Linked DNA regions of Homo sapiens: region 2 is linked to region 1. Evidence: fine-mapped expression QTL. A gene starts in region 1. The other region holds a variant in brackets. All regions are shown on one strand. Distances are from middle to middle. Region 1 holds the start of ZNF296 (zinc finger protein 296). Region 2 overlaps PPP1R37 (protein phosphatase 1 regulatory subunit 37).

Region 1 (8,240 bases):
TCTCCCCGCCCTCGCCTCAGCCCCTGCCCTGGCCTCGCCCGCACTAGGAACTGGGAGCGCAGCTTTCTGTGCCAGTCCTGCTGCGCCCCAGGCACTGGGGGCTGGCCGTTCCCTCACCCCCTCACTCCAAACCGGTCTGTCCAGCCGTCCACCCCACGGAGGGGAAGCCTCCTGCCCCACCTCATGCACCCCAAGAAAGCCAGAGTCCAGACGGGTGTAAATAAAAGGGAAAATTTACTTGGAGAAGGCGGGCAAAAACGAGGAGGTCAATGGGTGTTGGCAGCGGTACCAGGGACAGTGAGGGGGGCTTTCCTGGGCTCAGGCCTCGCCGGCCGCCTCAGGGTGCTTCTGCCGCAGGTGTTTGTCCAGGGTGGCTCGCAGGCCGAAGGGCACATGGCAGTGGGGGCACTCGAAGCGGGTGCTGCCAGGCGTCATGCCGTGCATGCGGCGGTGGCGGTTGAGCTTACTGCTCTGGGCGCAGGCGTAGTTGCAGAACTCACAGGTGTAGGGGCGCTCCCCGGTGTGTGAGCGCCGGTGCACCGTCAGGTTGCTGCTGTTGGTAAAATGCTTCCCGCAGAACTCACAGCTGCCCCCGGGCCCGCGGCTCTTGCCCCCTGACTTGGGCATCTTTTTGGGTGATGCCTTCTGGCTGTTTGCAGGGTCAGTTCTTTGTTCCGTGGTGATGGCTCCCCAAGTGTCTCCACCAGGGCCGGCTTGAGCCCCACTGCCAGGAGCCCCGGGTTCCTGGACACCTGCTGTGGCGGCGGCTCCAGCCCCCTCACCACCGCTGCATGGAAGGGTGCTGGTGGGGGCAGCAGCATGGACAGCCGGCTCCGGAGGGGCTGCAGAGGCCTGCTCCTGGCTGGTGTCGGCCATGAGGGGGCTCTGGGGCGGCACCTGCCGGTGGGTCTTCTTGTGGCGGTTGAGCTTGCTGCTCTGGGCGCAGGCGTAGGGACACTGGTCGCAAGCATAGGGCCGCTCGCCTGTGTGTGAGCGCATGTGCACTTTGAGGTTGCTGAAGGAGCTGAGGGTCTTCTTGCACACAGGACAGGTGGGGCTCCGCCGGGTGAGGCCGCTGCCACTTGCACGGGGGCTCTTGGCCTCAGCTGCTGGCCCCACCACTGCCGACACGGCTGCAGCCACCTCGGCCAGGCCCAGGAGCGGGGCCTCCGGGGCCTCTGATTCTGTCTGGTAGATGGACAGTCCGTGGTCCCACTGGGCGTGACGCAGCAGCTTCCAGGCCACTGTGAACTGTTTGCCACAGCGCAGGCAGCTCAAGGCCTTCAGCTCCTCTCGTTCTGGTAAGAAAAAGAGGCAGAGTGTTAGTGCGGACAGCTGCCAGCTGGACACCTTCTGTGGGATAGGCACTCCTGCAGGGGCAAAGGACTTGGCAGTAACAAGACACACACACCCTGGAAGGACCAGGAAGCTGACGCTCAGAGGAGGGGTGGACACGAAAAATCTGTGGAGTGGGTGCTAAGTACCTGAAAACATTTTTTTTTAGACAGTCTCACTGTCGCCCAGGCTGGGGTGCAGTGGCACGATCTCAGCTCACTGCAACCTCCACCTCCTGGATTCAAGCTATTCTCATGCCTCAGCCTCTAGAGTAGCTGGGATTACAGGCGCCCGCCACCATGCCTGGCTAATTAGTAGAGATGGGGGTTTCACCGTGTTGGCCAGGCTGGTCTCGAACTCTTGGCCTCAAGTGATCCACCCACCTCGGCCTCCCAAAGTGCTGGGATTATAGGCATGAGCCACTGTGCTGGGCCATGTGTTTGAAAATCTTTTAAAAAGTTATGTTAACTCAGTAAGCGCTTCCTACATGCTAGGTGCTGAGCCATGGCTCATAGCCCGGCTTTCCCTCAGGACAGGAAAATAAGATCTCCATTTTCCAGACAGGAGAACTGAGGCACAGAGAGGCATTTCCCCAGGGTTGCACAGCTTGGAAGGGGTGAAGCTGGGATTTCAATCCAGACTACTGGGGGAGGGGGAGAGGGCAGAACAGAGGCTTGCTTGCTTTTTTTTTTTTGCTTTAAATTTTTAATTTAGTATTTTTTAAAGAGATGGGGTCCTGCTATGTTGCCCAGGCTATTTTTTTTTTTTTTTGAGACGGAGCCTTGCTCTGTCGCCCAGGCTGCAGTGCAGTGGCGCGATCTCGGCTCACTGCAAGCTCTGCCTCCGGGGTTCACGCCATTCTCCTGCCTCAGCCACCACGCCACAGGGTTTCACCGTGTTAGCCAGGATGGTCGCGATCTCCTGACCTCATGATCTGCCCGCCTCAGCCTCCCAAAGTGCTGGGATTACAGGTTTGAGCCACCGCACCCGGCCGCCCAGGCTATTCTTTAACTTAATGGCCTCAAGTAATCCTTCCGCCTCAGCCCCTCAAAGTGCTGGGATTATAGGCGTGAGCCACCATACCTGGCTGGGAGCAGAGGCTTTTGAATAAGATTTTTGGTTTAGGCCGGGCACGGTGGCTCACACCTGTCATCCCAGCACTTTGGGAGGCTGAGGCGGGTTGATCTCTTGAGGTCAGGGATTTGAGACCAGCCTGGCCAACATGATGAAACCCTGTCTCTAGTAAAAATAAAAAATAGCCGGGTGTGGTGGTGCGCGCCTGTAATCCCGGCCACTTGGGAGGTTAAGGCAGGAGAATCGCTTGAACCCAGGAGGCGGAGGTTGCAGTGAGCCGAGATCCCACCACTGCACTCCAGCCTGGGTGACAAAAGCGAGACTCTGTTTCAAAAAAAAAAATTTTTTTTGGTTTAATAAAAATAATTTTTAAAGTAATTGAGATATCTGGGCATGGTGGCTCATGCCTGTAATCCCAGCACTTCAGGAGGCCAAGGCAGGTGGACCACCTGAGGTCAGGAGTTTGAGACACCAGCCTGGTCAACATGGTGAAACCCTGTCTCTACCAAAAATACAAAAATTAGCTGGCCATGGTGGTGCACGCCTGTAGTCCCAGCTACTTGGAGGGCTGAGGCAGGAGAATCACTTGAACCTGGGAGGCGGAGGTTGCAGTGAGCTGAGATTGCACCACAGCACTCCAGCCTGGGTGACAGAGTAAGACTCCACCTCAAAATAATGGGGTAGCTACAGAGAAAGCTTAGCGGCCACCTAGTAAAGAGGTGGTAGTGACCTGGGTCCCCCACCCTCTGCATGGATCTCAAATTGAGCCCCCAAACCTGAATTTGGATTTCTATCTGGACCTTCGGGGTACTCTCAGTGGACACTTCCTAGGTGAACTAGCCTTTCCATTTTTCAAATTCTAGAGTCTTGGATGGGACAACCTTTGTGATACAACCAGTCCTGGGTCAAGAGCACAGGCCTGCATTCAAATTCAGACTTCTCTGCTCCCTAATTGTGTGACCTTGGGCAAGACATAGTCCTCTGTGTGCCTCAGTTGCTAGAATTCAGGGACCCTAGAGATCCCCTCCCTTTCAAGGGTGGTTGTGACCTCGCTTGGGGAATGGTTGAGAGCTTTGGTCCACATAAGCGCTCAAACAGCAGAGCCTGTGAAACCAAGGTGCCCATGATTCTCCAAGCCCTGTAGTGTTTTGTTCCAGCGATTCCATCACAGCCCCTCGCTCGCTCCTCCAGGCCACTCTCCATGCTCCAGCTCTAAAGCTGATTCAATCAGTCACAAGCCCCTCCTCTTTCCCACCACCAGACCCTCCCTGGCCCAACCCTAAATAATTCCACTTCTCAAAAGTCTCAGAAGGGCAAGGGCCAGGGGGCTGGAAACTAGGTTTGGATTAAGCCCTGCAGCCAACACTGACCAAAAGCTCACCGAGGGTCAAGCCCCATGTGAAGGCTTTTAATTCCCTCCCAAGAGAAGGAACCCGGGTGTCCAGCACCCGGGAGCTCGCTCAAACCAGGGGATTCCCAGCACGCGGGGCTGGGAGATTCCATCACCGAGGGAAGCCAGAAGCCCCTTCCTTGGCTCTGAACACTCAGCTGTACTAGCACCTCAATCAGAATTGACAGAGAGAGACAGGAGGGGGTGGCAACCTCCCCATTCCAGCTGGCCTCCACTCCCCCTCCCCCCGGCCGCTGCCCTCCCTAGAGGTCCCCTCCTACTGCCACCCTGGTCCAGCCACCTGGCCAGTTATTTCTGGCCAAGGGGAAGGAGAAGTGAAACCAGGTTGGGGTGTGTGTTGGGGGGGGCAAAATCCCGGGCTAGTCTTCTGGGGCTGGCCACACCCTGTAGGCGGCCCTCCTTCCCTGCCCAGTCCCCCCCCGCCCCCCCTCCACCGCCACCACTGGTCCCTGCCCTAGGACGGGCAGGCCCTGGCCACGCCTAGGCTGCACCCGATGGGGAGCGAGAAAGGGGAAGTAGTGCTCAGTGCCCTGCCGTCCAGCCCAGCCCCTTTCCAGCAGGAAGCCCAGCCCTCGAACTTGAGAGGGGGACTGCACCCGGCTTTACTCACCTGAGCCCTGGCCGCGGCTGGGGCCTCTGAAGAGCTGACAGCCCAGCTTCTTGTGGTCCATGAAGGCAGTGATGGCCTCCAACGGGAAGGTCTGCAGGCAGCGGCCGCAGGTCAACAGATCTGGGTGTTTGTCGGTCCAGGGCTGGCGGTCTGCAGGGAGGAAGCGGGTGGTGAGCGTGGGGTGGGGCCAGGATGGGGGCTGAGGGTGCTGAAGGAGAGGGGAAACCGAAGGTCAGAAGGGGGCCTGAGGGGCAGGACGGGGCGAAGGAGATAAGGCAGGGCGAGGGGCCCATGCCCAAAGGGAAGGGTCCCACCCGAGGGTCAAAGGTAAGGGAGGCTGGGCCCAGGGCCCGGGGTGCTCACCGGGATAGTTCGGGGTCAACGGCGTCCACAGGGTCCACGGGTTCCGCGGGCCGAGGGCGAGGAGGGCGGCCCCGGCGGGCATGGGGCCAGGGGAGTGGTGGGGTTCGCCGCCGAACCGCCCCGCCGAGGACACCTCCTTCGGGGAGAAGGGCCCCAGCCTTGGGGCCTGTTGGGGCTGCGCGTCTGGCTCGGGCTTGAGTTCGATGACGAGGTCCTGCATTTCCATCTCGTCGTCTGGGTTGGCGGCGGGCGCGGGCTCTACTCGGCGGGGCGCGCTGCCGGCCTTGCGGCGGGACATGAGTCGCGGGCCGGGCGAGCGAGCGGGCGGGCAGGCAGGCAGGCGGGCGGGCGGAGGACGCACGAGCGGAGGACGCGCGGACCGTGCGCGCTCAGGTGAGTGACTGCGGCGACCCGCCGCGAACTCTTACACGTGCTGGCCGGGCCCGTGGCTCCGCCTACCAGGGCGGGGCTCATGGGAGGGGACCGAGCCGCCCTGCTGGGGCCCTGACGGCGGCCTAACTCAATCTAGGCAGTGTCCCGTGCGTTTGGCTTAGTGACCAAATTTAATCACACCGAGTTCCCACAAGGCATTGAAACAGCTATCCCTGATCCCGTTTTAGGGCGGGTGAAACTGAGACACGGCATGCCCACACGCACCCCCAAGCGAGAAAAATAGTCGGTCACGTTTCTTATTAGGTGCCTGATAGTAATCTGGGCTATTTCATTAAATGCATTACAATAAAAATTCATTTTGCAAGCATTCACTGAGTGCCTCCTGTGCGCCAGGCTCTGTTTGAAGCCCTGAGAATACAGGAGGGAATAAACAGAAGATAATCTTTGTTTGCACGGAGTTCAGACGGTGGGGGAAGACACTATAAACATAATTACGTAAAATATAGATGGCCCTTCATGATGACCAGTGCCATGGAGCAAAAGAAAGCTGGAAAGGCGGAGAGGGTTACTGGGGTTGAGGGATTCAATTTTCTCCCCTATGATGGGAAAGGGCATGGTGGAGCTGAGGCTGGAGGGAAGGAAGCCCAGCCAGTGGGCCTGGGCATTGAGGAATTACAAGGAAAGGGAGAGGCAATACGGGTTGGGGATTGAGTTCAGTGAAAATATGGGGGCAGATCCAAGCAATCTTTTGATCGCTTTAAGGTCTTTTGGTTTTCCTGAGACCGGAGCCTTAGGAGGGTTTTGAGCAGAGGAGGACTGTAATCATACACATCGACTCTGTTCCTAGACCAGAAGTCGCCATTAAAACCAAATAGCCAAGCAGCTCACCTGCCTCCACTCCGCCTCCTTGAACTTCCCTCCCCTAAGCAGTTCTGTCTGCTCACTGTTTGAAGTGGCATCGACACCCTGCCCCACCCTCAATCCCTGATGAGTATTCTTTTCTTCCTGGCACCGACTGCACGACAGTATAGAACGGCTTGTGGACTGTCCTCTCCCCCACCCAATGCAAGCCCCCTGAGGTCAGGGCAAGAACCTGTCCTCCCCCAGCTGTCCTCAGCCCAGATGCTGATTTCAGATGCTGATCTCTTGGAGTTCTGCACATTGTTATTCAGGTCTGGGTTCCATTGTCCTCCTGAGAGCAGAGGGCCCTGACCAACAGTATCTAAAGTAGCCCCACCCTGCTGAAGGCCTTGCAAATTACACTCCATGACCTCCATCTGTCCCCAGTTCCCTCTTGGATCTCACTTTCTCCATCTGTCAAAGGAGGTAGGGCAGGTTGGAACTAGAGGGTTATCTGAGGTGGTTTCTTCTTCACTGCCGCCTCCTCTGATCACCCTTTTTTTTTTTGTAATTTTTAATTTTTCAAAAAAAATTATTTTTAAATAGAGACAGGGACTCGCTTTGTTGCCCTGGTTGGTCTGAAACTCTTGGCTTGAAGCGCTCCTCCTGCTTCAGCATCCCAAAGTGCTGAGATTACAGGTGTGAGACACTGCACTCAGCCTCAGACCACCCAATTTTAAGTTCCATGGCAACCCAGCCACCCACTATCCCATTGCCCTTATTTTACTCTTTTTTTTTTTTTTTTTTTTTGAGATGGAGTTTCACTCTTGTTGCCCAGGCTGGAGTGCAGTGGCACGACCTCAGCTCACTGCAACCTCCGCCTCCCGGGTTCAAGTGATTCTCCTGCCTGAGCCTCCGGAGTAGCTGGGATTACAGATGCCCGGCTAATTTTTCTATTTTTAGTAGAGACAGGGTTTCACCATGTTGGCCAGGCTGGTCTCGAACTCCTGACCTCAGGTGATCCACCCGCCTCAGCCTCCCAAAGTGCTGGAATTACAGGCGTGAGCCACCGTGCCCGGCCTATTTTATTCTTTATACATCACTTTGATCAAACCCTGAAGGATCTTGTTTACATATTTGCTCATTTTACCCTATTCTGTCCCTTCTACCCCCACTAGAACGTAGGTTCTAGGAGGCAGGATGGGAGTCTGTCTTGTTCATAAATACAACCCCTACTCGTTCATAGTTAAGTCAACAAATATTTATTGCGCACCTACTATGTGTCTGATGATATTCTTTCAACAGATATTTGCAGAGCACCAAATTGTGTACCTGGCACTAGGCCTTGGTGATCTAGTGGAAAGCAAAGGCCCACAGGATCCCTGCGTAAAGAGGACCCCGCAAGGAGAAAGTGAATTCTGACTGGGCCTGGAATAGGGAGGTTCATATTCCCCATTCAAGGCCTCAGTTTCCCCCTTTGTAAAATGGGACTGCAGGGAGAGCTGGAGGACAAAATGACCGCCTCTGATCCAGCCCAGCTACTTTCTTAGTATGCGGCATCTGAAACCATGATCTCCAGGTTTCCTGTAGAGGAGCGGGGGTTCCCACTGGAAGCAAGGGGTTAGGAGTGGGTATGTGTAGGGGGATGGGGATGCAAAGACCGAGCTCTGCCCTTAACCCAGCAGGGAGGAAGTCTTCCCCTCTCTGAACCTCAGTTTCTTCCTGCCTAAAATGGGCATCCCAGACGCCCCCAACTCGCAGGCAGGAAGATCGGTCCCAAGTGCCCCGCAAAGCCGCGGGCCAGGTGGCGACCCGGGCTGTGCTGGCTTCCAAGCCTGCGAGCCAGCCCGCGACCACGTGGGGCAGTGGCGGCGGCGCGGGCGGAACCCAGGCTCCGCGGCTTGCGGCCTGCCCGGGCCTCTGCAGCGGGGGCGCCGGCGGAAGTGGGGACACCAGTAGCCGCGGACCTCGGTGAGTACAAGGTGGTGGGGGGTCGCCAGCAGGTTCCCTCTCCCCGGCCCCAGCTCTGGACGCTCACCCCAGTGCAACGCCCTGAGTGACGGAAAGAGGTAGGACCGCGCCTGCAGCGCCGGCTGGAGGGACGTTCTGGTCCCCAGACGCTCCTATCAGGGACTGTTTGATCCCGATCGCCGGCAGCGGGAATGCCCCACGCGGGTGGGGTGAGGAGAAGGGAGAAGGAGAAAAACTTCCCCT
Region 2 (8,391 bases), 49 kb after region 1:
GCAGTGGCGCTGTCTCATTGCAACATCCGCCTCCCAGGTTCAAGCGATTCTCCTCCCAAGTAGCTGGGATTATAGGCACCCGCTACCACACCTGGCTAATTTTTGTATTTTTAGTAGAGACGGGGGTTTCACCATGTTGGCCAGGCTGGTCTCCAACTCCTGACCTCAGGTGATCCACCTGCCTCAGCCTTGGCCTCTCAAAGTGTTGGGATTACAGGCGTGACCCACTGTGCCCCGCACATTTGTACTTTTGACTGGTCTTGCCAAATTGCCTTTGAGACGGAACCATGTCCTTGGTCAGGTCCTTTCTCATCTCTAAGCGTCCCCTGGAAAGTTGGGGAGATAATTTCTATTTCTCAGGGCCATTAGGAAGTGGAAACGAGATCGAGTTTGTCAATCGCTTAGTTTTGGGAGTGGGCGCAAAGTTACGGCTCCACCGGTAAAGCACAGTAGAAGGGCCCCAAGCAGTGTTTGTTCTCTTCCCCCATGCCTCTCTGCTGAGTGCCACTGGGGATTGTAGGAGTGGTGGGAGAGCGTGGGGATGATTACTGTTGGGAAATGCATGGCAGTGGCTGGAAGAGGGGGTCAGAAGCACAGACCTGCATTTACACTCACACTCTGGGATGAGGGACTTTCCTCCTCAGGGCGTCTGTCTCCCTGCCATGGGAGGCAGTGCATGTGTCAGCCATGGCCCTCGGCTGTAAGCCCAGAAACAGACCCCTGCAGAATTTGTAGCAAGGGAATGTGTGGGGAGGATGTCACCAGGCAGGAGGACAGCTGGGCCCTCGCATGGGCGGGATTGAGGCCACTGGATTCCCTAGGTAGGGAGCTCCCCAAATACAGGAAGAAGGTTAGAGGCAGGAAGAGCCTTTTCTACCCAGGAAACCTGACCAGTGCCACGCAGTGAATATACAGGGTCCTCACGCAAGGACCTGAGAGATGTGTGGGCAGCTGTGTGCAGTGTATACAGGGAGTCCAGGGGCTGGTGTGAGCCCTGCTCTTGAGGGGCCTCTGGATGCCCGCGGTGGGGTGCTGGGGCCTCCACGGGCGTCATTCTGTGGTTGCTCCAGGATTGGACTTAGAAATCTGGGTTTGACTACATATCAGGCTGCCCTGGGGCCCCTTTCAGTAAAGATACTCCCCTGAGAAATACCTGCCCTTGGGAAGCCCACTGCATTGGGCTTACATGACTGATCAGACTCTGATTCTGTGTGGAGCAGCCTGGGGAAGGGCTTGGAGGCGGGAGTGAGGATGGTCTCCACGTGGGCAGTGTAGACGTGTGGTTTTGCAGGGATAGAGACGTGCAGCAGCACATCCGCAGAGGTAGCGAGGCCTTGGGGGTGTGGGGTTCCCACAGAAAGCTCTGTGGGTACTCTTCTGCCTCCTCCTCCCTATTTCAGGCCCCAGGAGGCCTTGTGTGGTTCTGTCCCTCCCCTGCCCCCCAACTGAGGCCGTGGCATTGTGGGAGCAGAGGACGGAACTGGACACCTAGTGAAGGTGCGTAGAAGGCATTTGCCCCAGGCTGGCTCTGGGCTGAGCACACCCATTGGTGACCTCATCACGTGCACACCTTCGCTGCCTGAGTGCAGGGCACCCAAAAGCCTGCCATAGACAAGAAGGGACCTTCCCTGAGTTCACCCAGCTGGCCCTGTCTGAGTTGGGGACTCACACCTGTGCTGACTCCAGAGACCCACCCCAGCCCCACCTTCCTGTTCCTTCAGTCAACACATATTTATTGAGCACTTACTGTGTGCCCAGTAAAGACCCTTCTGGGGATATTTCAGTGAACAAAAGGGGTAAGAGTTCTCCCCTCATTATAGCATAAATGCACAGATCAGTACGCTTCCTGCTGGGTCATGAGAAGTGCCACCTAGAGAAGGAAGCAGGGATTCATAGTGATAAAGGGGCTGACTTTTTGGAGGGTGGCCAGGGAAGGCCTTTGAGGAGGTGACTTGGGAGTGAAGACCTGCAGGCAGGGAGGGAAGGAGCCGTTGGGGTGTGAGGAAGAGGGGTGCTCTGGGCAGGGGGTAACAGGTGCAAAGACCCTGAGGCACTGTGTCCAGATGGCTCTGCCACTGGCAAGGATCAGGACCTCAATGACTGTAGCAGCCCCTCCCCAGCACCCCCAAGTGAGGTCTGGCCATGCAGCTCTCCCATGTGCATGCTTTGCCTCCCGTGCTCCATAAGCAGGACCTTGACCCCTCCAGCCTCCTTGCTGACCCCTCTCGTCTCACACTCCAGGTCCCGATCTGTGCAGCTCACTGCCAGATGCATCAGGCAGCCTCCTGCACCTGCACTTTCTTCACAAAGTTCCCTCTGCCAGAGACGCCTTTTGCATCTTTGTCATCTCTGAGACTTTTCCAGATGCCTCCCGCTGCAGCTGATCCCAGCCTGGCCATCCTCCCCGCCTCCATGTCCCCTCCCTCCCTCCCTCCATCATAGCCTTGATGCTGTTCTGCCACTGCCCCTGGATTTGTCTCACTGATTGTGCAGAAGGCTCTGGGACAGAGCTGGCTTGTGGGGGATTGGGCCACTGCCTATTGGAGGCATTTGGGGGCTGTCCCAGGGGTGAGTGCACCCCAGGCTGGACCAGGTGCCCACACCTCTCCCGCCCAGCACTGGCACCTGTGAAGGGCCTCTGGAGGCTGGGTCTTCCTGCAGGCACCAGGAAGAAACCTACGAGCGCATCCTTGCTGAGGGCAGGACCCGCTCTCCACATCCTGGAAACCCAACAGAGAAAGACAGTCTCTCTGGCAGCCTCCCTGTCTTGAAGTTCGAGAAGGCTGCATTTCTAGGCTCCCACAACCTGTCTGTCCGGTTTGAAGCCGGGGCCTGAGGGCTTCAGGGTACTGATGCAGGACAGACAGCTCTGGTTCAAACCTCCCTCTGTCCGCTCCCACAGGTGTGGCCTCAGAAGACCATTCCCTCTGTAGCGTGGTAGAGGCTGGAAATTCTACTCTGCAGGATTATGATGCGGATTAAATGCAGTAATCGAGTGTTTGGCAGAGTGCCTGGTAGGGAAGGGGTTCAGTAAAGAGCTGCTCGCACCATTCTGTGCAGGGAATGCTTTAGGGCATGTTTTAGAATTTTAGAACGTGTTTCACTACATGAGTAGCTTCTTGCAGCTTTGAGGCCCTGGCATCCCTCTCCCCTGCCTGCAGGCTTCCTTGTTCACTGGGCCAAGTCCCCGCAGTAATCTTCCTAAGCATGGAGTAGACCGGGCCCTTCCTGGCCAGAACATCCCCATCTACCTTCAGGGTCTACTGCAGTGGCCAGATGTGAGCTTCTCCTCTGTCCGCTCACTCACCTTCTCTGTGCCTGTCTTGGCCCCTTCTCTGTGCCTGGCTGGCCCCATGTGGAGCAATGTTGGGGTAACAGTGTGGACCACAGACCACCCCATGCTGTCTTCCTAGGACTCATAGTCCAGTGGGGGAGACACACAGGTCTCCAGATGGTGACAACTCAGAGGGGACAGGGCTGAGACGGGGAGCCCAGAGGGTGGGGCCTGACCTACCGTGGGGATCAGGGAGGGCTTCCTGGAGAAGGCATCCCTAAGCTGAGAATTGAAGAAGTAGTAAGCAGTGAGAGCATGTACCGTGTAATGTGTAAAGGGGAGGGAGAATGTGAGGTGCTGGGAAGCACCGGGCCCTTCGGGGGACGGGAAGAATTTGGGTGTGGCCAGAGCACAGTGCCCCATGAGTGGAGAGGTCCAGATTGTCTATTTTTCTTTTCTTTTTTTTCCCCCAATGATCCTAGAAATTCTCCCAAGAGAGGTCCAGATTTTTTGACAAGGCTGAAGGGCGGCCCCTGAGACCTGACTCTACCTGTCTGCCTGGCCTTTCCTCAGTCCAGTGCGTGCACGGCCCCCTCCTCGCTCTCACGCATCATCTGTGTGCTCCTTCCCTGCCAGACAAGAACCCCTGGAGGGCAGGGACCAGTTCAGAGCCATCCCTGTCTCCCCAGTGCCAGCACAGAGCTTGGCCTGAGTAGGTTTTGGGGACTGGGCTTGGTGGCTCACACCTGTAATCCCAACATTTTGGGAGGCTGGGGCAGGAGGATCACCTGAGCCCAGGAGTTCAAGACCAACCTGTACAACATACTGAGACCCGGTCTCTACATAAAAAAAGAAAAAAAAAAAAAACTGGCCAAGCATGGTAGGGTGTGCCTGTAGTCTCAGCTACTTGGGAGGTTGAGGTGGGAGGGTCACTTGAGCCCAGGAGTGCAAGGCTGCAGTGAGCTATGATTGAGCCGCTGAACTCCAGCCTGGGTGACAGATGGGGACCCCCCAAAAAATAGGTTTTGGGAAATGTTTACCAGATGAGAGGCAAGACGGAATTCTCCTAAATTCGAAGCTTGGAATTCTCCTAAATTCGAAGCCTGAGGCAGAATGGTTGAAGCAAAAAGAGGAGATTTGTTGTCTTATGGGTCTGAAGGGTCCTGAATAGTGTGGTGTCAGGCACAGTATCTCTTTATCAAACAATATCTCTTTAATCTCTGAGCTTGGCCGGGCACAGTGGCTCACGTCTGTAATCCCAGCACTTTGGGAGGCCGAGGCGGGCGGATCATTAGGTCAAGAGCTGGAGACCATCCTGGCCAACATGGTGAAACCCCGTCTCTACTAAAAATA[C/T]AAAAATTAGCCGGGTGTGGTGGCGCGTGCCTGTAGTCCCAGCTACTCAGGAGGCTGAGGCAGGAGAATTGCTTGAACCTGGGAGGCAGAGGTTGCAGTGAGCCAAGATCACACCACTGCACTCCAGCCTGGCGACAGCGAGACTCCATCTAAAAAATAAAATATCTGAGCTTGGCTTTCCTCTGAGCTGGCTTCATTCGCGGAAGGCTGTTCCCTCCTGATGGGTGCAGGGATGGCTGCCAGTAGCTCTAGAAATGGGATGCAGTCTTAACCACCCTAGTGGGAAGAGAGCTCCTCTTTCCTGAGAGTTCCATCTCAGGGCGTAGGACCGGCTGTGGCTGGCTCTGTAACCTTCCTGTCCCTGACCGATCATTGTAACAGAGGTTGTGGGACGGGGCACCTATCCACTCCTAGAACCTTTGGGGAGGACAGCGGGGAGTCAAGGTAAAGTGAAGAGGCCTATCCAGGCTCCTGGGGTGAGAGAGATTGGGTGACCAAGGCTGGTCCACCCAGGGGAAGACAGGAAGAGAAGTGGGCCATTCTGGCCTCAGACCTCTTCGTCCTTTCCCAGACCCCACGCCAAGGCAGAGCTCCCTGTGGGATGAGTTTCTCACTTGACCTGAAATCTCTACTTGTGGGGCTGCTGCAAGTGCACAGGCTTCAGGAAAGGTGGACCACACCCCCTGTGCCCCAGGCTCCTTCCCGAGGGTGTGCAGCCCACCATCCAGATAGGGGTGGATGGTGCCCAAGTCGTGGGGGCTGACAAGCATGGAGAGTCCTGCAGAGAGGCCCAGCACCGGATTCCCAGGCTGCTCCTTGAGACGCTGTCCCACATGGGCCGGTCACTCACCTGCCATGAGACTCCCAACTGGGACCTTCCCTGCAGAGCCTGTGAGGTGGAACGATGGTGATGGTGCCCCCTTGTGGGGTAGGTGCATGTGGCAGGCACAGAGTGGTGGCAGCAACTGTAACATACGGTTCTGGAGGGCAGGGACAGGGGCCCTTCCTGTGTGCCTTGTGGTGCTGAGTGCCAGGCTGGGTGAGCTCACCAAGCCCTCCCTGGGAAGGTGCTGTTGATGCAGCAGGGAGGCCCAGGGCAGTCACTGCTCTGTGCTGTTGGCGACGGAGCAGGGATTGGAACCCAGGCGCCTGGCTTCGAGGCCCGCATGCTGTGGGGAAATGGGGCTCTGCCATGTTGGTGGTTATTTATTGTCGTGAACAAGAGCTCAGGCCTGGTTTCCAGGTGTGACTTTATTGCACCCTCGCCCTACCTCCCCGGCTTGAGAATTCTGGAAAATACCACAATAAGTGTTTCTTTTCTCTTTTGAGATTATGTAAATAATACTTGCCTCCATGCTCTTAAAAGAAAATGACATCTCTATTTCCATGTGTTGCGGTGTTTCCTGGTTTGGGACCCCACCAGCTATCCAGTCACCCAGGCTTGAAGCCAGGTTCTTCCCAGCTTCTCTCTCCACCCTGCCCATCCCTGTGCATGTAGCAGTGACCAGGTCCTATCGATTATCTGATTATCTGCCGGAAGCCTCAGGAATGGGAGCCTTCTGAGTCAGCACATCACCAGGAGCACGGCCTGTGGCCAGGCTGCTCAGGGGCTGGTGATGTTGGTTTCTTTCACCTTAATGTGTGAGTTGTGTAGTAATACGGTCCTATATCACTTAATGATGACACATTCTGAGAACTGCGTCGTTAGGTGATTTCATGGTCATGTGAACATCCTAGTGGACTTACACAAACCTAGGCCTGGTCAGGCCTGGTGGCTCACACCTGTAATCCCAGCACTGTGGGAGTTCTAGATGGGCGGATCACCTGAGGTCAGGAGTTTGAGACCAGCCTGACCAACCTGGTGAAACCCCATCTCTATTAAAAATACAAAATTAGCCTGGCGTGGTGGCGTGTGCCTGTAATCTCAGCTACTCGGAAGGCTGAGGCAGGAGGAGAATCGTTTGAACCTGGGAGGTGGAGGTTGCAGTAAGCTGAGATCATGCTATTACACTCCAGCCTGGGCAAGAAGAGTAAAACTCCATCTCAAAAAAAAAAAAAAAAAAAAAAAACCCTAGGTGGCATGCCTACTGCACACCTGGGCTACCTGGAATAGTCTAGTGCTCTTGGGCTCCACACCTGCACAGCATGTGGCTGTGCTGAGTACCCTCGGCAAGTGTAACACAGTGGTAGGTATTTGTGTATATGAACGTAGACAAGGGACAGTAAAAATATAGTGGGAAATCTTATGGGACCACCGGCTGCATATGCAGTCCATCATTGACTGAAATGGCTTTATGCGGCTTATGACTAGACCTGTATGTGCCTCAGTATTCAAAAGATGTAAAAAGGTGGACAGAGATTCAACATAAAGAAATGATCAATGTTTGGGCCGGGCGCGGTGGCTCACGCTTGTAATCCCAGCACTGTGGGAGGCCGAGGTGGGTGGATCATGAGGTCAGGAGATAGAGACCATCCTGACTAACACAGTGAAACCCTGTCTCTACTAAAAATACAAAAATTAGCCAGGTGTGGTGGCACATGCCTGTAGTTCCATCTACTAGGGAGGCTGAGGCAGGAGAATCCCTTGAACCCGGGAGGCAGAGGTTGCAGTGAGCCGAGATCGTGCCACTACACTCCAGCCTGGGCAACAGAGCGAGACTCCATCTCAAAAAAAAAAAAAAAAAAAGATAAATGTTTGAGGTGATATGCTAATTACCCTGACTCAATCCTTGTATGCATTTATCGAAATACCACATGTACCCCATAAATATGTATAATAATTATGTATTAATAAAATTAAACATTTTAAAAAATGTATATAGAGAGAAGGAAGTTTCTCTCTCCCTGTCCTCCTTTGGCTTTGCCAGCTCACCTTCCTAAAAGCAGTCACCTAGTTTATTGTATGTCCTTCTGGAAGGATCTCTGATGGAGCTTAGCTAATGACAATCCACAGCAGCCACAGCCCAGGCCAGCCGACAGAGTTTGTAAATAAAGTTTTATTTGCACATGTCCAGGCTCATTTGTTTATATACTATCTATTACTCTTTTCATGCTACAAGGCAGAGTTGAGTAGTTGCTGCAGAGCCTAGTCTGATCATTTAAGCAAAATATTGTGATGCCTGCAGCTGTGTGTGTTTAAAGTCAAGGCAGGGTGGTAGAGGCAGCGGCAGCAGCAGGCCCAGAGGCAGCGGTTGGGTTTGCAGCGAGAAGACAAGGTTGAGTCAGTGTGTTTGCGAGAGCTGGAATCGAAGCCTCTTAAAATGGCAGATGATTTGGACTTCGAGACAAGAGATGCAGGGGCCTCGGCCTCCTTCCCAATGCAGTGCTCAGCATTATGTAACACTGGCTTCGTGGTGCTCAAAGGCTGGCCCTGTAAGGTCTTTGAGATGTCTGCTTGGAAGACTGGCAAGCACAGCCGCGTCAAGGTCCACCTGGTTGGTATTGACATCTTTACTGGGAAGAAATATAAAAATAACTGCCTGTCACCTTATAATGTGGGTGTCCCCAGCATCAAAAGGAATGACTCCCAGTTGATTGGCATCCAGGAAGGTACCCCTCACTGCTCCAGGACAGCAGGGAGGTGCGAGAGGACCTTCTTCGTCTGCCAGAGGAGACCTTGGCAAGGAGATGAGCAAAAGTACCGCTGTGGAGAAGGGACCCTGATCACCGTGCTGTCTGCCATGACAGAGGAGGCAGCTGTTGCAGTCAAGGCCATGGCAAAAGAACTGGCTCCCAGGGTGACAGTGGTGGCAGCAGTGATCTTC

The links.
Region 2: its variant is fine-mapped to the expression of ZNF296 in putamen (GTEx, PIP above 0.99). The same link has a PIP of 0.9 or more in nucleus accumbens.

The regions. Positions count from the first base shown.
Region 1 is chr19:45,071,283-45,079,522 of GRCh38, forward strand. It overlaps ZNF296 (zinc finger protein 296), which reads right to left and starts at 5,196. Exons shown (of 3, transcript NM_145288.3): 1 at 4,794-5,196; 2 at 4,431-4,580; 3 at 218-1,298. The coding sequence starts at 5,091. The coding sequence ends at 319. It overlaps GEMIN7 (gem nuclear organelle associated protein 7), which reads left to right and starts at 7,978. Exons shown (of 3, transcript NM_024707.3): 1 at 7,978-8,095. RefSeq lists silencers at 4,013-4,322, 4,653-4,892, 4,983-5,392, 7,796-8,055 and an enhancer at 8,225-8,240.
Region 2 is chr19:45,120,681-45,129,071 of GRCh38, forward strand. All of the region lies in intron 1 of PPP1R37 (protein phosphatase 1 regulatory subunit 37), which reads left to right. It also overlaps the pseudogene EIF5AP3. Among named protein-coding and RNA genes, the nearest start is that of PPP1R37, 32 kb to the left of the region's middle. RefSeq lists enhancers at 1,228-1,417, 5,325-5,464. The variant C/T (reference allele first, on the strand shown) is at 4,628.